Regions from separate parts of the Homo sapiens genome. Here regions 1 and 2 are each linked to region 3. Evidence: fine-mapped QTL for protein levels in blood plasma. A gene starts in region 3. Each other region holds a variant in brackets. All regions are shown on one strand. Distances are between the middles of the regions.

Region 1 (2,742 bases), 82 kb before region 3:
AGGCTGGAGTACAGTGGTGTGATCTCGGCTCACTGCAACTTCCGCCTCCCGGGTTCACACCATTCTCCTGCCTCAGTGTCCCCAGTAGGTGGGACTACAGGCGCCCGCCACGATGCCTAGCTAATTTTTTGTATTTTTAGTAGAGATGGGGTTTCACTGTGTTAGCCAGGATGATCTCGATCTCCTGACCTCGTGATCTGCCTGCCTCAGCCTCCCAAAGGGCTGAGATTACAGGCGTGAGCCACCATGCCTGGCCACTTTCATTTTTATAGTAATGTCAACCACAAATAGTCAACCACTTAAATAATTGACTACTTCTACTGAGCCATAAGAACTGCCAGAATGATATTTCTGATCTTATTCGTTCTTATATAAGCCTCATCATAGTTCCCTGGAATAAAATTATAAATTGTGTATGATATAAGTAACTAAAATTAGTTTAAGTTGATTTCTCAAAAGCTGTATGTATTTATGATAAGAGAAATTGCACATTATTAGGCAAAAACCTATGAACTGTTTAGCTTAACACATTTTTATATATCTAATTTTTTTACCAAAGCTGAACTCTTTCCATGTTTACAAGGTAGTCTGGGATTACTAACAAAATAAACAAGAGCCTTTCTAGATAAATGTGTCCATATGCCAGTGCGGTTTAGGTCTTATTCAAGACACAAGTCATTACTTCTGAAAAAATGAAGGCACATTTATTAAATGACTGGGAGAAATTCCATAGTATGTAGAATGGGAATAATAATACATAACATTGTATTTTATGTTCCATTTTTTAAAATGAGTCCAAGGAAGTTAAAATATTCTTTTAATTAAGACACTCAAAGAAATGAAATAAGAAAAATTGATGCAAGGACTCCTTCAAGTTAAGATTTGTGATACAAATATTTTCATCTTTTAACAGGGCAAGCTGATGTGTTCACATCTCAGTTTCAAGCTGCCTCTTTCACTAGGAACATCAGTATTTTTTTTTAAAAGCACATTTACAATGCTTTCCCATCACCCTTGCTGTGTTTTTGTAGCACCTATAGCCATAACTGGCACCTGGGGGCCTGCGTTGCTGGCAGTTTCCCTTACATTTCTTTGGAGTCTTTTCAACTGCTGTGGTTTTACTTAGAAGTCAGTGCTTTGCATATTTGATTTCCTGAGACTGTTTGAATAGTCTTTCTCAGAAAACTGTGCCAGTCTGGCTGTGAACAGCTCTTCTCCGAGGGGAGCTGACAGTAGCCTGCTCGTGTTGGTATGCTTGGACTTGGGTTCCCAGCCATGCCCTGCTATCTTCTCTCCCTAATCCCTCTTATCCTGTCCCTGCCCTAGTGACATCACTGCCCACATCTTGCCATCCCTTTAAAGAAGAGAACAACATTTGAACCAGTCCAGTTAGAAAAAGATTAAAATCCTGCTCAGGGAATCTATGCAAAGCCTCCATAAAAACAATTCCTATTTGTTGTTTCAGCAGCTGATGCAGAAATGATTTTAAACAATAAAACCCGACCGGATAATTCAAACTTCTGTAAGGTAATAATCTGTTGTGAAGACAGAAGTCCCTACTTAAGATGATAGGTATGAAATTTGGGAACAAAGGTAACCTTAAGTTTCTTGATTTGAGTGTGTATTTTAAAGATCATCATCATCTTGACAGTGCAGTTTTGAGATAATGAAAACAAAAATGAGTTTTAATAAGCTTTAAATGGCATGGTATTTTGAGGTGCTAAGGTAAAGAGAAA[C/G]ATTGTTTTATGAAGTGGCTCATGTGGGTATATATATGTTGGTGTGCTGTGCTGCTAGCTATTCCATGGTCTTCATCAGTATACCACTAGAGAGAGAAAGAAAAGAAGTTAGAATTAGGAAGTCAGTACTCTTCTTAAAAAAAAAAATACGTAAATTCAAATGAGCTCTCACGAGCATACATGGTATAAAACAGAGTGTTTTAATTCCTGAGGCAGTTTATAAACTGAAACGGGGTCAAAGAGGGGGTCTAATTTTCCCCCAGAGCTTTTCCAGGGCACGTTGTTCTGTCCTGCAGAAGTCTCTGATCCTCTTTTGCAGGTGCTGAGAGAACTCACTGTGAATTTGGCTTTATTGAATAGTGCTTTAAAGATACGTACATTTTAATTAAAACACCCAATCCATTTCCAAATTTGACTCAAAGGGCGCTTACACAGCATGCATGGGAAGGAATGATTATCCCATTAAGCCCACTTGTTTTAATTAAACTGTTATCAAGTGTTAAATTTCTCTGTACTCTAGTAAGATAAACTGTATTAAACTAAATGATTTTTTTTAAAGCAATATTGCCTAATATATAGCACCTAGAAACTGGAAAAACTCTATTTCAATATTACATATATATGTTTAATAGAAGTGAAGTCAAAAATCAGATGTATTATTTGTAAACACTTAGATTTTAAACTGGTATTTTAAGAAATCTGTGTATTTGACATTTATGTAAAAGGAATTAATGATCTGGGACAAAAATTTATTGATTCATACCTTGTTAAATAATTGGGAAGTCATTACCGGGCAAACATAAATTATGGAGACATAAGTTAACTTTAAAAAAAGCTTAATTAAAGTAGCATTTGTCTTTTCTTTGAATAGTAGAAAAATAAACTTCAACCTCTTATAAAACACTGACCCAAAAGATAGCCAGTTTTTCTCAGTATCAAGTAACTGTCCCACTCCTGTGCATTGGGCACCATTTGAACTGAGCACAGAGCAAATCATGTGTGTTAG
Region 2 (2,764 bases), 460 kb before region 3:
GGAATTTTGTAATCTGGTCCTTGCCCTCATGTTCATCCTTCATTCCTGCCACATCCTTTGATATATCCAGTGTTTCAGTTATAGACAACTTTTTATAGTTCTTGAGCAAGCTATTCTTCCTTTCCGGAATACTTCTATTCTTCCCTATAATCCATTTTATACATTTATTACAGTAGTTATCATATGAACTATTAAATAAATGTTTGTCTTTTTCCACTTCCAAGTACTATCTTTTACACTAAGTCAGAGTTTATTGGAATTTTGTGAATTGTCTTCTCTGAAGGAGAGACAGTGGCAGACTTGGAGAAAGCAGTGTTATGTCTTATTTGGCCAAAGAAAGACTAAAACCACCTGGCTCAGGAGATTACCACCGTAGGATTTCTCACCCTGACACAGTAGTTATCAGCCCAATTATTTTCTGTTAAGAAATGGGATCCTATGCATCTTCCTCAGTGTTTTCTGAATGAGCTGGAAGAAGCCTAAACATGAGGCAGCATTTACATGAATCATTGTTGATAGAAATACTTTATTTCTGGCTTGACAAGTTTCATTCTTTTAAAAATGTCTGGCCATAGTACCAACACTGAGTTTGGATCTGGTGTTCTTATTCTTCTTTGTGGTAATTAGAATTGGAGAAAACATTTCACTGGCAACCTTTACAAGTTAGAGATCAGTTATAGCATGATGCAAAAAGTAAGTGCGTTGGAGGCAGATAGCCTGGGTTGGGATTTCTGCTGCTTATAGCTGTGTGAAGTTCAGCAAGTTATTTAACTTCACTCAGCTTCAGTTTCTTCATATATAAATGGAGGTAAAATGCATACTTCTCAGGGTTGATATGAGTGGTAAATTAAATAATTATATAAAAGATTTGGCACATACCTGACATGTAATAAACACTAAGTAAATGGTAGGTTTCATTTTTAAACAGTGGATGGCACATTGTCCTAATAATCCTAATATAGTGTTACATGTTTTCTTCTAAATAATTGTAAATATTTAAGCCAAGTGTGTGTGTTTTTCTTTTGAGGAAGAGTTGTAGTTAGAGAATGGAAAATATGTATATCAAATTTGGAATAGGTGATGCATAGGCACTTCTATCAGAATATCTTGTGAAAAATACAGAATCCTTATCCTCACCCCAATTTACTAGGTTAGGATCTTTGGATATGGGACCTAGGAATAAAAAATTTTCAGAAGCATCTAAGGTTATTCTAAAACACCTCAGGTTATTCTGATAAACTCTTCTGTATGTTTTAAAGTTTATCTCAGATATGATGTCCATTGGGAAGTCTTCTCTAATATCCCCTATAAAATAAAACCAATCTC[C/A]TGAGTATGGCAAATACGGAATTTTGTAATCTGGTCCTTGCCCTCATGTTCATCCTTCTTTCCTGCCACATCCTTTGATATATCCAGTGTTTCAGTTACAGACAACTTTTTATAGTTCTTGAACATGCTATTCTTCCTTTCTGGAATACTTTTATTCTTCCCTATAATCCATTTTATATCTTTATACCTCCACCCTAGTCTGGAACAGGTGCCCCTTCTATTTCTGTCACATACCTGTCATATTTAAGGTATATGTCTTGGACATGTCTGATTGTTTGTCTCCCTTCCAGACTATCAGATCCCTGGGGCAGGGACTTTGCCTTTCTAGTGCCTTGCATAGTACTGAGCCCATAGGAGGTATTCAGTAAATATATATCAAATGAATAAACAAGTTTTTGTGCATCTTCCTGGATGTATGAGATTATGTTTCTGAAAAGTATCATTTAATTCAAACACATATGGAAATCAATTTTCTCAGAGAAATAAAAGCAAATTTCAGTTATTTTGTTTTTTACTATTTTATTAATATTGAATTAAGATAATATTTTTAAAATCTTAATTAAGTTTCCCCATACATTTATTTAAGTGCCTTGTATTTCTTCATTTAGTCATTGGTTTTTCATATTTCAGGATGTATCCATCCTGAATGGATGCAGCAGACAATCTGGCTTTAAGTTTCAGAAGCCTTAATCTAGTTGGACACAGTTTCCAAATGATAGCATTGTGAGAAAAGATGAAGAGCCAGGCTGTCCATATCAAAAGATTCTCCAGAATGGAGGAAAGGAAGAATTGGAAGTAGTAAGAACTTCATGTGTCAATGTGTAACCTTAAGAAAGGGCTATGTGCTTTTTCCACTAACTGAGCCCTAGTTTGGGTTTTGGAAGAGAGAAAATAACAGGTAATTCAGTTAGGTTTACAGAATTTGAAAGAAAAGACAACTTGTGTCCCATTCCTGATTAGAGGGTTTGAAAGTTTCTCTCATTCCTGATGCAGGCTGGGAGAAGTAGGATAGACATATTCGTATAGTAATAAAGGATCAAATCTAAGAGGTTATTTGGGTATCATATTTTTCTAGTAAGGACTTTCATTTCCTATATGCAACATAATTCCATTGCTTTAAATGTGATGGAAATAATAAATATAAAAGAATATCATTCCCCACTCCCAGAATTGTTAAAAGAAGTCTATAATGAAACATGCTGAAATGTTAACAGTGACCATCTCTGGTTGGTGGGATTATGAATGACTGTCATTTGCATCTTTATACTGCTCTGAATTTTGAAAAGTTTCCATAATGAAAGGGCTTTTTCACTTGGGTTTGCCATTACTCATCCTTTAGTTTATGTTTCATCTCCCTGATTTACAAACTCATTAGTTGGGATTATGTCCCTATTTGATACTCCTTTAATATTTTGGACAGCTCATTGTCTTATCACCA
Region 3 (2,758 bases):
AAGACGTGAAAGCCGCAAGAGTTTCAGCCTAAACACTGAAGACCCCGCGAAGTGAATCCAGCTGCTGCTCTACAAGCAGCAACAACAACTGGGAAGCCTTCTCAGCTACACTTCGGGGCACTGGTCCAACCCCACGCAAAATCCCTCGTTTCCCTTAGCGTGGTAAGACGGAGCCTGACCTGAGCTCCAACTGTCCTATCTTTTTCAAATGTTTCAAACTTACTGCCTTTGTTCAGCAGAACCACGGGCACGGTGATGATGGTGACAAGCGCAGCAGCACCCAGCAGTCCCAGAAGAACCTTCCACGGTGTCTGCAAGCCGAGCAGATCAAGTCCAATTAGAGGGAAGCGTGTGGCCCCAGTTTCCGTAGGAGGGTCGGGGCTGCTCCAGAGGCAGCAGGATTTGCAGGTGGGAGTGCGTTAGAAGAGGGAGACCGCGGGCTGGGGGTGGGGGTGGCGTCTGGAGTGCGCCAGTTGGAGTTCTCTAAGGCGGGTGCCCTTGAACTTGTGCCTTCAGAGCACATTAGCGTTGGTTTCTCTACCCCTGCCCGGGTTCGGGCGTGCGTTCTGTGAGTGGCTCTCCGGGACATTCAAAGCTCGACGCCAGGGTCCTAGCAGAAGCCAGGGTCCGAAAGCTAAGCGAGAGCTCTGGGACGTCCCTTCACCTGTCAGAGGGTGGCCTTGGGGCTTCCGCCTAAGGGGAGTCCCTGGTCCGGTTTCGCCAGCTTTTGGGCCATTTGGGGAGTTTGGCGAAGAGGTCCCCACAGCTCGCCCCGGGGACGTACGTGGCGCGGCACTCACCTTCATCGTCGGCGTCTCCTCGGAAGTGAGCGTTCAGAGAAGGAGCGCAGGCAGAAGTCACCGCGGGCGGCGGAGACGCGCGTCCTGCACCGCTGCTCCGGGCGGTGGAGTCACTCGCCGCTGGCAAGTTTCGGCCCCGAGTTAAACATTAGTGAGCGCCGAGCCCGCTGGGTATAAAGGCGCCGCGGGCAGGCTGCAGGGCAGGCGGCGCGGGAGCAGGCGCGCGTGGCGCGGGGCACTGGCATCCCGGCCGGGGGGAGCCCGCGAGGGCCCCCTGAGGGCGGTGTAGGGCGCTGGGCGGCAGCCGGGGCGCAGAGTGCGGGGCCCGGAGGAGCCGTGGGGGAGGGGAAAGGGCGCGCGGCCTCGGATGCGCAGACCCTGGGCCGGCGACTCGGGGACCCTGCTCCCTCTTAGCTAAAAATGACGTCGGCGTTCAGCTCCTCCAACCTCACGTGGACAGGCGAGGGAACCGAGACCCAGAGAGGGCAGGGGACTTTGGCAAACTCACACAGCCCACCGCAGGCAACTGGAACTGAAACCCAGGACTCCGTCTCTTGCCAGTGAAAGTTATGTTAGGAAGCAGTGAGGGGTCTAAAGCAGTATGAAAGGCAAAGAGAAAAGGTGATTGTTCCCTCTTGAATGGCCCTTGGAAGCTGAGTATCTGGATTCACCCTCCCTAGGGAATTTCCCGATTGTCTTGCAGGCTTACACACTCATCAAGATGACAAAAATAATGACAGTAACACTTATGTGGAACTTGACTTTTTCCCAGGTGCTGCTCTAAGCATTTACTGTGTTTGTTTTACAGGAAGGAAGACTGTACACAGAGAATAAATAACTTGGCCAAGCCATTCAGCTAGGAAGTTGTAGATCCTAAATTAAGAGTTCAAGGTCTTAATGGCTACTCTATGCGGCCTCTCATAGTCTTTTCAAGGGTTTTGGAGAAGAATAAAAGATCAGGTATGGCTTCTCCCTCCCCCAGCTCTCTATTGTTCCCTAAAGGATTATTCATTCGTTCATTCATTCCTACATCCTCCCATTTATTCCAGTCATCCACAGATGTTTGAGTGGTTACAATGTGCCAGCCTCCCTTCTAGGTACTGGAGATAAAGTGGGACAAGAGAGGTGAGGTCTGGACCCTTGGCACTTTCACGATAAAATACACAGGTAAACATTTGCCTTTAGGGCCCCCTGTGATTACTTCCACTCTTGCAGATAAGAGGATAAGGCCTCTTCAGCTTGTTCACAGCAGCTGAAAAGCAAAGCCTCTCTGTCAGTAGAGGTAAAAGATTAAGAATGCAGAGTCCGATGGGGCATTACCACATGATTATGAATTAATGCAATTTTCCATCTTTTATTTCCAATCCAGGCATTGCTTTTGAACTCAGTCATCTTTTCCCCCTTGCCCACTAGTTGCTTGTGATACATCAGTATCCTCACTCACCCCCAACTCCAGAGGCTGAAACTAACTCTCCTCCTCCCTCTTCCAACTGCTGAGGAAGATGAGTCAATGGTGTTACTGGACCCTGTGAACTGATGCTGTGAAGAGAGGCCATTTAACACGGACTACGGGGAATGGTGCCACAGGGGGCTCAGTGCTGCCCTTCACTCTCAGCATTTTGCTCACTCAGCATTGGTAAGCCACATCAGCCTCGGTGAAGGAAGTCTGGAGAGTTAAGCCTGTGCTTCATCTCCATGCCAGCACCATGGCACTCATTGTACATTCAGCAAGCCCCAAGGAAGCTGGCAGGAGGCTGGCTGACATCTACGGGACAGGTCAATTTGTTCTCTGGAGGGCACTCCATGAGACGCAAATATCTTCACACCCTGTGCCCATTTCAAGAGACTCTCTCACATGCCTCCCCCACCTTGACCTCTGTGTCACCAGTCTTTCAATCTTGTTTTTTCCAAATCCTTAAGGTAGCAGCTGGCCAACACATTAGCCACCACTGATGAGT

Which allele goes with the higher level. Positions count from the first base shown, and alleles are read on the strand shown. Strength reflects both the effect of a copy and how common the allele is.
For the plasma level of the protein whose gene starts at base 1,040 in region 3, C is the high allele of the variant in region 1 and G is the other (moderate association).
With allele C in place of A in region 2, the plasma level of the protein whose gene starts at base 1,040 in region 3 is higher (weak association).

The links. PIP is the chance, under the fine-mapping model, that this variant and not a neighbour inherited with it causes the effect. Protein levels are from antibody-based Olink assays in UK Biobank. Linkage for the fine-mapping came from a reference panel and not from the study's own genotypes, which makes the PIPs less certain.
Region 1: its variant is fine-mapped to the plasma level of the DPP4 protein (UK Biobank, PIP above 0.99). The variant lies in the coding sequence of DPP4. If it changes the protein, the assay may bind it differently, which can mimic a change of level.
Region 2: its variant is fine-mapped to the plasma level of the DPP4 protein (UK Biobank, PIP 0.99).

The regions. Positions count from the first base shown.
Region 1 is chr2:161,991,563-161,994,304 of GRCh38, forward strand. It overlaps DPP4 (dipeptidyl peptidase 4), which reads right to left. Exons shown (of 26, transcript NM_001935.4): 26 at 683-1,822. The coding sequence ends at 1,721. Among named protein-coding and RNA genes, the nearest start is that of DPP4, 81 kb to the right of the region's middle. The variant C/G (reference allele first, on the strand shown) is at 1,737.
Region 2 is chr2:161,616,526-161,619,289 of GRCh38, forward strand. No RefSeq gene overlaps it. Among named protein-coding and RNA genes, the nearest start is that of SLC4A10, 6.5 kb to the right of the region's middle. The variant C/A (reference allele first, on the strand shown) is at 1,327.
Region 3 is chr2:162,073,176-162,075,933 of GRCh38, forward strand. It overlaps DPP4 (dipeptidyl peptidase 4), which reads right to left and starts at 1,040. Exons shown (of 26, transcript NM_001935.4): 1 at 801-1,040; 2 at 224-311. The coding sequence starts at 806. It overlaps DPP4-DT (DPP4 divergent transcript), which reads left to right and starts at 1,682. Exons shown (of 3, transcript NR_147697.1): 1 at 1,682-1,760; 2 at 2,303-2,436. RefSeq lists enhancers at 559-758, 1,193-1,890, a silencer at 909-1,168 and a promoter at 1,445-2,758.